Linked DNA regions of Homo sapiens. The protein of the gene in region 3 interacts with the protein of the main gene of each other region in a biochemical or structural test. Each region holds a gene or a part of one and is shown on either strand. Other genes may lie near its edges.

Region 1 (3,500 bases), about 97 Mb from region 3:
ACACGGTTCAGTAGAATAAAAATGGATATAGAAGGAAGTGAAGAGGAGAGGAGTAAGCCATTTACAGAGAATGCAATTCAATCCAAATTTCAAAGCGATTTCTCTATTTCTCTGTTCTCTAATACCTTGAATCATAAAAAAAAGAAAAAAAAAGAGCACATTTCTATAAGGCCTACAGAATCAGTCTTGTTTCCCCAGGGTGACAAATATACCAGGTAAAGAGGCAACTGCCACAGCTGATGAGCAGGAAAACTGGACAAAATAACATCCTCCCAAGACACACTCGAGGAATCCTTCCTGTACCCCCTCAGAAGGCAGGGAAGAATGGATGTGCCCTGATGATGCAGCCCTGTGTGGTTGACAGGCTCTTGGGATGAGGGATGAAGAGAAGGCAGGGCTTCACCGAATAAGCATCTAGCTGAGGGCAGAAAATCTCGTGAAGGTTGGCTGGGGCTACAAAGGTTCAGGAGATGACAGCACTTACTAGAAGGCCCAGCCATAATTCCAAACATGTGGTCTCCAGTCTTCTGGACCCAAGTTGACAGTCGCTTGGAAGACTTGTGAATACATCATGTGGGCCACCATCCCCAGGAGACCTACCAAGGAAACAGGAAGGCAGAGCCCTTAGAGAAAGGCTTTCATGCCATCTGCCAGGAGTACGATTTTGGATCACCCTTCTTGCAGTCAGGCGCAGCCTCTGTTGGAGTAGCCCATTACCCTATGCCACCACATTTCCCGAAGACTAATTCACAATGGGGGCTTCTCCTTAAATACACATCTTTGCAATAGGTGACCCCAGACTGTAGGCTGAGAGCTATGGAAAAAGTCTGAGTCAAGGCTGCACCCAAGGCCACTGCACACCACCCCTACTCCTTCCCACCCACACCCCAATGTTGGCTTAATTCTTCATCTTATATGTGCATCTTTCACTTTATCCAATGGAGACTGGTCTTGAAAAGCTGTGTGTATGTCACAACTGAAAAGTAACCCAAACAATAGATTTTACATATTGAGAAAGCTTGCAAATAAAGGAACCTAGAGGTAAATCATTTTGTAAAGTACACGGTGATCCAATATACAATTTTGTATGTTACTTCAATTTAAAATTAAAGATGCCTACCTCCATTCTTTAAAGAGCCTTTGGGCTCCTCCCCTTCAGGGCAAAGACTCAAGCCCTCCAGCTAGGGCTTCAAAAGTGGCCAGGGCCAACCACCCTCTCTCACTCCAGGAGCAACTCACCTGACAGGACAGAGGAAACAGCAGCAAAGGCGCTCAGTTTGAGCCCACAGGCAGGGTTCCCAGTGAGTAGCAAGTCTGTTAGTAGCAGGAGGAAGCTGATGAATTGAAGTCCGATGTAGGTGATCTGCGTTCCCAGGGATAACCATAGGATTTCTGCCAGAAACCAGAGGAAGAGGGAGCGCTCACCCTGACAGTTAAAAAACTGAATAAGCGGTGAGCATAGGATGCCTATTAGGAGTTAAGACCCTAGCAGCATCTGAGAAGGGGAGAATGAGGCACAGCTGAAACCAGGGAGGAACATTACTTCATTTCTAGTCCTTTGACGTCACTCACAGCTCCCACTCCATAACCAATATATACCCAAGTAAGCTTGACTGACTGTAAATACTGTTGGGGAGATTTGAGAAGAAATCATCGAATTTTCATAAATCCTGCAGGGAAATAATGTTGCTCTAGTTATCATTTTTTGTCTTTTTCCTCATTTAATTTTGGGGTGGTTCCCTCCCTGCCTCCCTTCTTCACTCTTTTCCTTTCATTTTACCAAATAATAATAATAATAGTGGAGAAAAAGGAGGAAAAAGCTAAGCCTTCCTACATGGTTACTTGGCAACAAGAGTAGGTTAGCACTGTTGGTGGTTTTCTATTTGTGAATCTTATTTATCCCTGCTGTTCTGTTTTTGCATTCCTGCATATGAATGAAAGTCAGCTCAAGGAGGAATTTGTGTCACCCTTTGGGGCTCAGAAGAGAAAAGTGGGAGATCACAGTGCAGTTTAGATCCGGAGAGGCCCAAGTCAATGGTAACTACTGTAAATTCCTTATCAGACACATACTTGCCACAAAGCCCCAAGGGAGGGGAGGGGAGGGAAGCCTTCTCCATCAACCGCTTCCCTCCAAATCGGAGAGTGGGGTGACATGGGCCTTGCAACGTGGCAAATTCCAGTAGTCCTTTCTCACCTCTCTTGGCTGGTGGTGTAAGTTCAATGAAACTTCGGCACCTCTCCCCTGAAACATACAAGGTACAACGTCATGGAGCTACTCCCTGGGATGGTTGGAATGAAAACCTTCCCCACCCCATAACTGGTACTGCTCCCTCTGCTCTGACAGCACCTGCCCCGCATAGAGCAGGAAAGCAGGAAAGAATGCCTGGGTGAATGAATGGCACAGCCAAGAGTCAGCCCAGGTGAATTTCTCTCTTCAGTCTCTGATAATGCAGAAGATGTTTCCATGAGAGCACCTACATAGCTTAGTGTTCCCATTTCCCGTGTCCAGAAGAGTTAATGATCTTAGTGTTAACTAATACCTTTTGCTGCCGCTGTACCACTGGACCGAAGGGCTCTAAATTGTTTCCAGGACTGGGGATGGAGCAGTGCTAAGTGGCACAATAATAAATATAAATGTAAATACACACATTTTTTTAATTCCTCTTCCATCTCGCTTTTAGCTGAAATAGGGAGAAGTAGCAGATATCAAATTGTTCATGATTCTGGGCATTAGAAGAACTTTAGTACCAGGTGCTTTCTTCCCAGGCCGGTCACCTTTCAGTGCTCTTGGGCAGGGAAGAGGAGGTGTCTTCAGCTCATTCCTCCAAACCTGAGGAACGCACATCGACCAGCACCTGCCTGCTTTGCTAGTGTGCACTGAGGGGCAGGAGACCTGGCAGATCTGCCTTCAGCTCCTTGAGGGCTCTCTTACATGATCAGTTACCCTGGCTGGCTGGCTTCGGTTCCCCCACTTTTAAATGGTAGCGGTAATACTTAGAATGAGAAAATACTTTGGGGCCAGGAAGAGGCTGTAAGATGATCTGCTGTGATGCTTTCATCTCACAAATGAGCAAATCAAGACCTATAGAAACGAAGTTATAGGCTGGGCATGGTGGCTCATGTCTGTAATCTCAGCACTTTGGGAGGCCGAGGTGGGCAGATCACCTGAGGTCGGGAGTTCGAGACCAGCCTGACCAACATGGAGAAACCCTGTCTCTCTAAAAATACAAAATTAGCCGGGTATGGTGGCACATGCCTGTAATCCCAGCTACTTGGGAGGCTGAGGCAATAGAATCGCTTGAACCTGAGAGGCGGAGGTTGTGGTGAGCCAAGATCACACCATTGCACTCCAGCCTGGGCAACAAGAGCAAAACTCCATATCAAAAGAAAAAAGAAATGAAGTTACTTGTATGAGGTCACAGTTGAGCAGAGCTAGGGCTTTCCTACAATATTCCTCTCCCTTCGTTTTGTTTCTAAACAGCAATTCTAGCTCCCTAGAC
Region 2 (3,500 bases), on a different chromosome or scaffold from region 3:
AGGTCAAGAGATCGAGACCATCCTGGCCAACATGGTGAAACCCCATCTCTACTAAAAATACAAAAATTAGCTGGGTGTGGTGGCGCACACCTGTAGTCCCAGCTACTTGGGAGGCTGAGGCAGGAGAATCGCTTGAACCCAGGAGGCGGAGGTTGCAGTAAGCCGAGACTGCGCCACTGCCCTCCAGCCTGGAGACAGCGAAACTCCATCTCAAAAAAAAAAAAAAAAAGTGGTTCCTATCAACATGTACCAAGAAGAGCCATGACATCTGCTCCTCAATTCATAAAAGGACCATCCAAACCTTGACTGTCACTCTCTCCCCAAAGTGCTTACAAGTCTGCCCTGAAGTTACTACCAAACTAGCACTAAGCCCCTAAAGAAAGGAGCATAGTAAGTGTCAGCAAAAAGAGACTGGTCACACTTCCAAACAGATGTAATTATAAAAGCAAAAGGCCAGGTAGCTTTCCCCAGGAAGTTAGAGTTTTTGTTTCCATAGTTATAAAATTAAGTGTCTGAAAAGTAGATTTAAGGTAGAATGTTCACCACGCTGCTTCAAAAAATATGCCCAATTTTTTGTAAACATTAGAAGTTTGTAAATTCCAGCAGCAAATTCAGATAAAATGTAAAAAGGCTTCCTAGAGAAACAGCTAAAATTAACACTTAAAATAGGGAGCAAGTCTACAACTCACTTCAAAGAGCCCTAAATGGTTATTTGGTTCAAGAGACTACCTATGAACATCCAATTAAATCCTTTACCCAATTATTTTTGGTAGCCAATTAATCTTTCAACTATAATATCCAATTTATCTTCAAAAGAATCACCCAGGCTGCTCTCCTAAAATGGCTAGCTTCTTAGAATAGGGCCTGTTTATAAACTACTTGCTTATCTATACTCTTGCCCTGCAGATACACACCCATCATTTAAGCTATTTCTATGAAAGAGATGGCTGCTTTTTAACTTTAAAACTTGCTTCCCTAATTGAACACAACTAAGTATCAGAAGCAAAGCAGAAAACTTTATATCTTGCTTTCTTTTTATTTCTAACAATGTGGCCAGTAGTTAGCTGGTTCTGTCTTCATAATATAAAACTACATTATGTCACATGCAATGAGAACACATTTAGGGCTGAAAATGCTTTCCAACTTAAGCAAGATGTATTTATAGATTGTCAAATAGAAGTAGCTTCAAACGAGCAATAAAACTCTTTTGCCCTATAGCAACAGCCTAGGAACTAACATATACTCCTTCTCCTTTTTTCTTTAAATAATTTGGTTTAGGTAAAACATAATCTCTTGCTGGGAAAGAAAAAAAAAGCCTTTAATTTGTGTTCTGTAAGCTGTGCAGTTCTGAGAGAACTCAGAACTGTGCAACGAGATCTTGGCAAGGGTAGACTTCCCAGCAAAGTTCAGTTTTTTAAAAGCCAAAATGTTCTTCCACCATCTCAGAACTATGCTGGGTGCCTAGAAGCCAAGGTGCCTGCCTTAGTAAATTCTACTTCATTTAATTCAATTCATTAAGCTTTTAACATACTACAATGGATCAGCACTCAGCTGAGTTCCATCTCAATGCCTACCTGTCTCATATTCAGGACAGTTATCAATCTACTTTAAATTTCTGGCTCAGCGATATCAAGACACTGAACACTAAACAAGTGGTTTATTTACAATGATCCATCATGACAAGAAAATATTTTTCAATAACAAACATGCTTCCTAATTCAAAACTTGCTAGTTTATAAAAGTGGCAGGGTATGAAATGATATGATTGAGATTTTCTTGAAAATAATCTGGTTGGAGGAGGAAAGTGGGGATACAGAGGAGACAAGACTGGTCACTGGTTTATTAAATGTTTCTCTCTACTGCATGTTTGGAATTTTTCTTAAGTTACACATACACACACTCTCTTCAAAATACCCATTTTCTGGCAAAATGCCCACCTTCTGGGTATTTCCTAGTAATTTCACATTCTGTAAAATACAGATCCTGTTCTTTAGAAGTTGTTTCCAACCCCTGAAAATTGTCCCTATCTGGTAGATTCAAACTATTTATTGGAATAGGATCCTAACAGAGAGTGAATGAGTAGGACGAGAGAGGCTCAACTAAATCTGTTCTTCAGGATCGCTCTCTCTTTAAATGTGTTGGGGTCTTGCTATGTTGCCCAGGCTGGCTTCAAACTCCTAGGCTCACGCAATCCTCTTGCCTCAGCCTCTTCAGGATCTTTTAAAAGAAATGCTATATGGTTACAGAGGCAAATGCGTGAGATGGCTGAACACAGCTATAAGTTTCTGCAAACTCTGTACCCTTTGAATAAATCTAGCTTCTAAACTGTTCTACTGAAATGCTAGGAGACTAGTAAAATGGAGCAAAAGTTATGTTGTCCTTGTGTCCAGTAGGTACTCACTGCCTTCTCAGTCAACACATCCTACATATCATACCAGCAATGAGGAAGGAGTCATATATGCCAAGTGAACAATTCTTCCCACTACCTCTGCACAACTATCAGGATAGTAAAAAAGGTAAATAAAGCCAGGGTGATGGGAAACTATGCTCCCGAGTTCTCATCTTTTTAACTGGGGAAAAGCATAGTCTTTTCTTGCCATATATATTAACGGTTGTACAGTTTCACCTAAGTCCACTTCTGCCACTGCCAGACAGCTATTTGAAAAGTCAAGGACAGCAAAATACTAAGTCTACTAAATGAGAGTAAAGTGCTGGAGCAAATTATAATAACAAAAACATCAGTTTTCCTTTCATTTCCCAGGACATTACAAATGACATTAAACCTGTATTTTTAAAGGTTAAGTACTAGATGCTGACATGAACAGAAGACCTCACGGAAACTAAGCCTTGTCTGCAACTCCTCATAAAAAGTACAAAAACATAAGAATTCAGAAATTTGGTGATATGGCTGAGTCTGCTGGCTCACGCCCATAATCCCAGCATTTTAGGAGGCTGAGGAGGATAGATCACTTGACTCCAAGAGTTCGAGACCAGCCTGGGCAACTTGGCGAAACTCTATCTCTACCAAAAACACAAAAATTAGCCAGTCTCACAAATCTGTCTCAAAATAAATAGGCCAGGTGCAGTGGCTCACACCTGTAATCTCAGCACTCTGGGAGGCCAAGGCGGGAAGATCGCTTTAACCTCAGGAGTTTGAGACCAGCCTGGGCAACTTGGCGAAACTCCACCTCTACCAAAAACACAAAAATTAGCCAGTCTCACAAATCCGTCTCAAAATAAATAGGTCAGGTGCAGTGGCTCACATCTGTAATCCCAGCACTCTGGGAGGCCGAGGCGGGAAGATCACTTTGACCTCAGGAGTTTGAGACCAGCCTAGGTAACATGGCGAAACCCTGTATCTACAAAAAAAAAAAAAAAATATATATATATATATATATATATATATATATAGCCAGGCGCGGTGGCTCACGTCTGTAATCCCAGCACTTTGGGAGGCCGAGGCGGGTGGATCACGAAGTCAGGAGTTCAAGACCGGCCTG
Region 3 (3,844 bases):
GACAGGGGCAGCTCCCCTGCGGGCCAGGGTGAAGGGTGGGAGGTCAGCGAAGGGGGCCCAGGGTGGGACTCTGCCTGCAGACACTCGGGGGACGGACACCGTGGCGCTCTGAGGATAATGACGGAGACAGCACCAGCAGTGGATATGAACTGCACGTTTCTCTGGGTGATGCCAGGGAGATGGGGTGTGGCTAGTTAAGGGCACAGCCACGCGATTTGGAGGCTGTGAGGGACTGGACACATCCAATGATGGAATTCTTTTTTTTTTTTTTTTTGAGACAAAGTCTCACTCTGTCGCCTAGGCTGGAGTGCAGTGGCACAATCTCGGCTCATTGCAACCTCCACCTCCCGGGTGCAAGCAGTTCTTGTGCCTCAGCCGAGTAGCTGGGATTACAGGCGCACGCCACCACACCTGGCTAATTTTTGTATTTTTAGTAGAGGCAGGATTTCGCCATGTTGGCCAGGCTGGTCTCAAACTCCTGACCTCAAGTGATCCGCCGACCTCGGCCTCCCAAAGTGCTGGGATTACAGGCGTGAGCCACCGCGCCCAGCTGATGATGGAATTCTTTGTGTGACTTTGTCCCTGAGCTGCACATAATGAATGCCTTTAAGCAGGGGCAAAATTCAAAATATTTCATGAGTCCAGTGATGACAACGGCAGTGGTGGGCTTTGGGCCTGGTGATGGGGCTGTTGGTCCCAGCATAAACCAGATTAAAGCACACAGACAATACAGAGCTGGGCGCTGACATCACAGCCCAAGGGCCTCTCGTGATCCCCACTGCACAGCTGGGGAAGGTGAGGCTCAGGGAAGTGAGGTCACATGCCTGGAAAGTGCAGAGTGAGGATTTGGCTTTTTTTTTGTTCTTTTCTTTTTGCTTTTTAAAGACGGGGTCTTGCTCTATTTTCCAGGCTGGAGTGCAGTGGTGCAATCATGGCTTACTGCAGCCTCGAACTCCTAGGTTCAAGTGATCCTCCAGCCTCGGCCTCCCAAGCAGCTGGGACTTCAAGCACATGCCACCATGCCATCTAACTTATTTATTTATTTATTTATTTATTTATTTTTTGAGACAGAGTCTCACTCTGTCACCCAAGCTGGAGTGCAATGGGGAAATCTCGGCTCATTGCAACCTCTGTCCCCCAGGTTCAAGCAATTCTCCTGCCTCAGCCTCCCAAGTAGCTGGGATTACAGGCACCCACCACCATGCCCGGCTAATTTTTGTTATTTTTGTAGAGATGGGTTTCACCATCTTGTTGGCCAGGCTGGTCTTGAACTCTTGACCTCAGGTGATCCACCTGCCTCATCCTCCCAAAGTGCTGGGATTACAGGCATGAGCCACCGTGCCCAGCCATTTTTTAAATGTTTAAAAGAGACAGGGTATTGCTATGTTGCCTAGGCTGGTCTCAAACTCCTGCCCTCAAGCGATCCTCCTGCCTTGACCTCCCAAAGTGCTGGGATGACAGGTGTGAGACACCGTGCCTGGCTGGAGTGAGGATCTGAATCCAGGTCCATGGTACTCCCCATGGCACTTACACCTCAGAGGCAACGGCCCTGTGACCAAGACCAACGTGCAGCCTGTGGTCCAGAGTGCTGCCTGCGCTCATGGCCAGAGTGGCCCTGGGTGTCTGGGTGATGGTCAGGGCTGCAGACACCAACCAGTATCATGCTATCTCCCGCCATGCTTCTCCAGCATGCTGTCAGCCCCCACCAGGCCCCTCCTTACCAAAGTAGAAGTAGCCCCCCTCATCCTTGGGCTGGAAGAAGCGCCCACGGGCCTGGGCGTGGACATCAGCTCCCTGGGCCACGAGAAGTTCCACGTAGTGTTTGCAGCGACGCTCAATGGCGATGTGCAGGGCTGTCTGACCTGGGGGCAGGGGACGGTCATCCAGGGTCCTGGCGGAGCAGAGACCTAGCCAGGCTTGCTGGGGGTGGGGGTAGGGTGCAGGACGTAGAAATTGGGGGGTGGGGGATGCAGGCAGAGTCCTGCCCAGCGACACCCAAGGGCAGCAAATAGGTCCTTGGATATTCCCTGGGATCCATCGCAGAAGCAGAATCTCAAGCCTGAAGGATACCTAGTTTGTGGAATCCTGAATGTGAGAAGTTTTTAGATTCATAAGATGCTTTAAAAATCCTAGAGGAGGCCAGGCGCAGGCTCACGCCTGTAATCCCAGCAATTTGGGAGACCAAGGAGGGAGATCACCTGAGCCCAGGCGTTTGAGGCAAGCCTGGGCAACACAGTGAGATCCCATCTCTATAGAAATGCTAAAAATTAGCTGGGCCTGGTGACTTACACCTGTGGTCCCAGCTACTCCAGAGGCTGAGGCAGGAGGATTGCTGAAGCCTAGCAGTTCAGTACCAGCCTGGGCAACTGATATGGTTTGGCTCTGTGTCCACACCTAAATCTCACCTTGAATTGTAGTTCCCATAATCCCCATGTATCATGGGAGGGACCCTGTGAAAGGTAATTTAATCATGGGGGCAGTTACCCTCATGCTGTTTTCATGATAGTGAGTGAGTCCTCAAGAGATCTGATGATTCTATAAGGGGCTTTTCCCCCTTTTGCTTGGCACTTCTTCTTCCTACCACCATGTGAAGAAGGACATGTTTGCTTCCCCTTCCACAATGATTGTAAGTTTCCTGATGCCTCCCCAGCCCTGCGGAACTGTGAGTCAATTAAGCCTCTTTCCTTTATAAATTATCCAGTCTTGGGCAGTTCTTTATAGCAGCATGAGAACGGGCTAATACAACAACATAGTGAGACCCTGTCTCTACAGAAATTTTAAAAATTAGCCTGGCATGGTGGTCCATGCCGGTGGTCCCAGCTACTTGGGAGGGTGAGGTGGGAGACTCCCTTGAGCCCAGGAAGTCAAGGCTGCAGTGAGCCATGATCACACCACTGCACTCCAGCTTGGGTAACAGAGCAAGACCTTGTCTCAAAAAAAAGAAAACTCCTAGAGGAAACAACAGTACCTTGGCCTCCCAGAATTTTGGACTCAAGATATAATATTCATGGATTTTGAATCTTAATATCCAGGCATCTGAAGGTCAACTCTGATTTACAGAATCTCAACTGGGGATTGGCCCAGTTCTTGGCCCCCTGCTGCCTTTGCCTCTTAGAACTTGTGAACTCAGGACTTATTATCATAGAGCCTTAGAGTATCCGCCACCACAGCATCTTAGGGCCAGATCCCGAGTTCATGATCACTAGACTCGCTGCATCTCAGAATCTTGGAATCTTTTTTTTTTTTTTTTTGAGACAGGGTCTCACTCTGTCACCCAGGCTGGAGTGCAGTGGCACAATCATAGCTCACTGAAGCCTTGACCCTCTGAGCTCAAGTGATCTTCCCACCCCAGCCTCCCAAGTAGCTGGGACTACAGGTGTGCACCAACAAGCCTGGCTTTTTTTGCATCTTTTTTTTTTTTTTGAGATGAGTCTTGCTCTTGTTGCCCAAGCTGGAGTGCAATGGCGCGATATTGGCTCACTGCAACCTCCACCTCCCAGGTTCAAGCGATTCTCCTGCCTCAGCCTCCCAAGTAGCTGAGATTATAGGTGCGCACCACCACGCCTGGCTAATTTTTGCATTTTCAGCAGAGACAGGGTTTCACCATGTTGGCCAGGCTGGTCTTGAACACCTGACCTCAAGTGATCTGCCCACCTCAGCCTCCCAAAGTGCTGGGATTACAGGTGTGAGCCACCGCACCTGGCCTTCTTTTATTTTATTTTTTTTTTTTTGTATCTTTTGTCAAGACAGGATTTCACCATGTTGCCCATGCTGGTCTTGAACTCCTGGGCTCAAGCGATCTGCCCCCCTTGGCCTCCCAAAGTGCTGGGATTACAGGTAAGAG
Region 4 (3,500 bases), about 14 Mb from region 3:
AATAAATTCTAGAAAGCAATGGCTGGGCTGATACACTCGCGTGTAACATACCAGACTATGCTATTCATTCACTCATTCAGCGAATATATTTACTGAGAACCTACTGTGTGCCATGCATTGTTCTGGGCACTGGGAAGACAGTAATGACCATGACAGATGAGGCCTTGGCCCTGATGAGCCTGACTTTTTAGTGTAGTGCTATACCATAGAAATATTATGCAGCTTTGCCATGTTAATAAAAAACAGTGAAGTTGGCTGGGCGCGGTGGCTCACACCTGTAATCCCAGCACTTTTGGGGGGCCAAGGCGGGTGGATCACTTGAGGTCAGGAATTCAAGACCAGCTTGGCCAATATGGCAAAACCCCATTTCTACTAAAAATACAAAAATTAGCCGGGCATGGTGGCGAGTGCCTATAATCCCAGCTATTCAGGAAGCTGAGGCAGGAGAATCGCTTGAACCCGGGAGGCAGAGATTGCAGCGAGTCGAAATCACACCATTGCACTCCAGCCTGGGTGACAGAGTGAGACTCTGTCTCAAAAACAACAACAACAACAAACCAGTGAGGTTAATTTTAATATATCTTATGGGACCCAGTAGATCCAAAATATTTTCATTTCAACATGTAATCAGTATAAAAACTTATCATTTGATATTCTGCACTCTTTTTTTCCTACTACATCTTTGAAATCTGGTGTGTCTTTAACCCCTGCTGCACATTTCCACTCAGACCAGCCACATGTCAAATGCTCAACAGCCACGTGTGGCTACTGACTTTCCATGGGATGGTGCAATTATTCTAGCATGAGGAAGAGATAGAGATTTTTTTTCTCCTTTTTTTTTTTTTTGAGTCAGGGACGTACTCTGTCATCCAGGCCAGAGAGCAATGATGGCATCACGGCTCCCTGCAGCCCTGAACACCTGGATTCAAGTGATCCTCCTGCCTCAGCCTCCTGAGTAGCTAAGACTACAGGCACACTGTAATTTTTTTTTCCTTTAGAGACAAGGTGTCACTATGTTGCCCAGGCTAGTCTTGAGCTTTTGGGCTCAAGCAGTCCTCCTGTCTTGTCCTCCCAAAGTGCTGGGACTACAGGTTTGATCCACTGTGCTTAGCCAGGATAGATTAAAAAAAAAAAAAAAATTCAGGCTGGGCACAGTGTTTCACACCTGTAATCCCAGCACTTTGGGAGGCCGAGGCAGCTGGATCACTTGAGGTCAGGAGGTCAAGACCATCCTGGCCAACATGGCAAAACCTCATCCCTACTAAAAATACAAAAATTAGCTGGGTGTGGTGGCGCACGCCTCAGGAGGCAGAGGCAGGAGAATCGCTTGAACCTGGGAGGTGAAGGTTGCGTTGAGCCGAGATCATATCACTGCACTCCAGCCTGAGCAACAGAGCGAGACTTTGTCTCAGAAAAAAAAAATCAGCTTATAATAAGTGCCATAAAGAAAATAAAACTGGGAGACATGAAAGAGACTGACTAGGGTGGTAGTCTAACAGATGGGGCAGTCAGGAAGTCTTCCCTGAGGAGGTGACATCTGAGCTGAGATCTGAATGAAGGATAGGATCCAGCCACAGATTGATCTGGGGGAGAGGCATTCTAGGCAGAAGACGTGGCTAGTGCAAAGGTCCTGAGGTAGGAATGCACTTGGCATGTTCAAAGAACACAGAGTCGGTGTGGCTGGAGCAGAGCAAGTGAGGAAGAGGACTGGGAGATGAATCAGGAAGGTGCCGGGGCTTGTAGGCTCAGATGAGGAATTTGAGGACTCTTGGTGCTGAGGGAAGAACGTGAAGGAGATGATTGATCAGGGCTGACTTCTCCGGAGAACCACTGGGCTGGTATGGAGGCAGCATGAGATTCTGAGTGGTCAACTCAGAGGCGAGAATCAGCAACCCCAGCATCAACTTCAGTTCGTTGAGAGAAGAAAAAAAAAGAATTTAGGGTTAAAGTCTGTATTCATTCCCTGTGGCTGCTGTAACAAATCAACACAAACTGGTCGGGCGCGGTGGCTCAAGCCTGTAATCCCAGCACTTTGGAGGCTGAAGCGGGCGGATCACAAGGTCAGGAGATCGAGACCATCCTGGCTAACACGGTGAAACCCCGTCTCTACTAAAAATACAAAAAATTAGCCGGGCGTGGTGGCGGGCGCCTGTGGTCCCAGCTACTTCGGAGGCTGAGGCAGGAGAATGGCATGAACCCGGGAGGCGGAGCTTGCAGTGAGCCGAGATCGCACCACTGCACTCCAGCCTGGGTGACAGAGTGAGACTCCGTCTCAAAAAAAAAAAACAAACAACAACAAAAAAATCAACACAAACTTAGTGGCTCAAAACAGCAGAAATGTGTTATCTTTTTTTTTTTTTTGAGACAGCATCTCACTCTGTTGCCCAGGCTGGCGTGCCGTGCGTGACCATTGGCTCACTGCAGCTTCAGCCTCCTGGGCTCAAGCAATCCTCCCGCCTCAGCTTCCCAAGTAGCTCAACTGCAGGCATGTGCCACCACACCCAGCTTAATTTTTAGCAGAGATGGGGTCTTGCCATGTTGCCCAGGCTGGCTGCAGACTCCTGGGCTCAAGTGATTCTCCTGCCTCAGCCTCCCAAAGTACTAGAATTACAGGCGTGACCCACCATGCCTGGCCAGAAATGTATTGTCTTATTGAACTGGATAATCCAATATTATGGATACAATGTCATACAGTATTATGGAGGCATATGTGTAATTATCAATATAAATAATACTGGAGAAATTTCCGGACGTCAGAAGTCGGAAATGGCTCTCACTGAGTTCAAATCAAGGTGTTGGGAAGGCTCCACTCCTTTGGGGGGCTGTGGAGGAGGATCCATTTCTTTGCCTTCCCCAACTTATGGACTCTGCATTCCCTGGCTTGTGGCCCCTTCCTCCATCTTCAAAGCCAGCAGCGTAGCTTCTTCCCATCTCCCTCATATTCCTCTAACGCTGACCTGCCTTCCTCTTACGAAGACCCTGGCATGACATCGGCCCACCAGATAATCCAGCCAGATAATCCAGAATCATCTCCCCATCTCACAAGCTCTTTTTTTTGAGACACAGTTTCAGTCTGTCACCCAGGCTGGAGTGCAGTGGCATGATCTCGGCTCACTGCAACCTCTGCTTCCCTCAGCTCACTGTAACCTCTGCCTCCCAGGTTCAAGTGATTCTCATGCCTCAGCCTGCTGAGTAGCTAGGATTTCAGGTGCACGCCACCATGCCCAGCTAATTTTTGTATTTTTAGTAGACAGAGTTTTGCTGTGTTGTCCAGGCTGGTCTCGAACTCCTGACCTCAAGTGATCCTCCTGCCTTGGCCTCCCAAATTGCTGTGATTATAGGCGTAAGCCATCATGCCCAGCCTCAAGAGCCTTTTTTATAAAAAAAAAAAGTTGGGGTCTTGCTCTGTCACCCAGGCTGGAGTGCTGTGGTGCAATCACAGCTCACTGCAGCCTCAACCTCCGGGGCTCAAGTGATCCTCCCACCTCAGCCTCCCAAGT

The links. The genes of interacting proteins can lie anywhere in the genome.
Region 1: the proteins of TRPV4 (region 3) and GSG1 interact in a test that uses a peptide from one of them, tested with the Homo sapiens proteins (one large-scale study listed by BioGRID).
Region 2: the proteins of TRPV4 (region 3) and EIF3J interact in a test that uses a peptide from one of them, tested with the Homo sapiens proteins (one large-scale study listed by BioGRID).
Region 4: the proteins of TRPV4 (region 3) and RILPL1 interact in a test that uses a peptide from one of them, tested with the Homo sapiens proteins (one large-scale study listed by BioGRID).

Annotation. Positions count from the first base shown.
Region 1 is NC_000012.12:13,086,668-13,090,167, forward strand, and holds part of GSG1 (germ cell-specific gene 1 protein), read right to left. Parts: intron 2,682-3,500; coding exon of another isoform or gene 2,610-2,681; coding exon 2,541-2,609; intron 2,243-2,540; coding exon 2,195-2,242; coding exon of another isoform or gene 2,071-2,194; intron 1,393-2,070; coding exon 1,240-1,392; intron 624-1,239; coding exon of another isoform or gene 597-623; coding exon 485-596; coding exon of another isoform or gene 481-484; intron 1-480. UniProt on the Homo sapiens protein: May cause the redistribution of PAPOLB from the cytosol to the endoplasmic reticulum.
Region 2 is NC_000015.10:44,540,147-44,543,646, reverse strand, and holds part of EIF3J (eukaryotic translation initiation factor 3 subunit J), read right to left. Parts: intron 1-3,500. UniProt on the Homo sapiens protein: Component of the eukaryotic translation initiation factor 3 (eIF-3) complex, which is required for several steps in the initiation of protein synthesis.
Region 3 is NC_000012.12:109,798,897-109,802,740, forward strand, and holds part of TRPV4 (transient receptor potential cation channel subfamily V member 4), read right to left. Parts: intron 1,863-3,844; coding exon 1,722-1,862; intron 17-1,721; coding exon 1-16. UniProt on the Homo sapiens protein: Non-selective calcium permeant cation channel involved in osmotic sensitivity and mechanosensitivity. Activation by exposure to hypotonicity within the physiological range exhibits an outward rectification.
Region 4 is NC_000012.12:123,527,220-123,530,719, reverse strand, and holds part of RILPL1 (RILP-like protein 1), read left to right. Parts: intron 1-3,500. UniProt on the Homo sapiens protein: Plays a role in the regulation of cell shape and polarity. Plays a role in cellular protein transport, including protein transport away from primary cilia.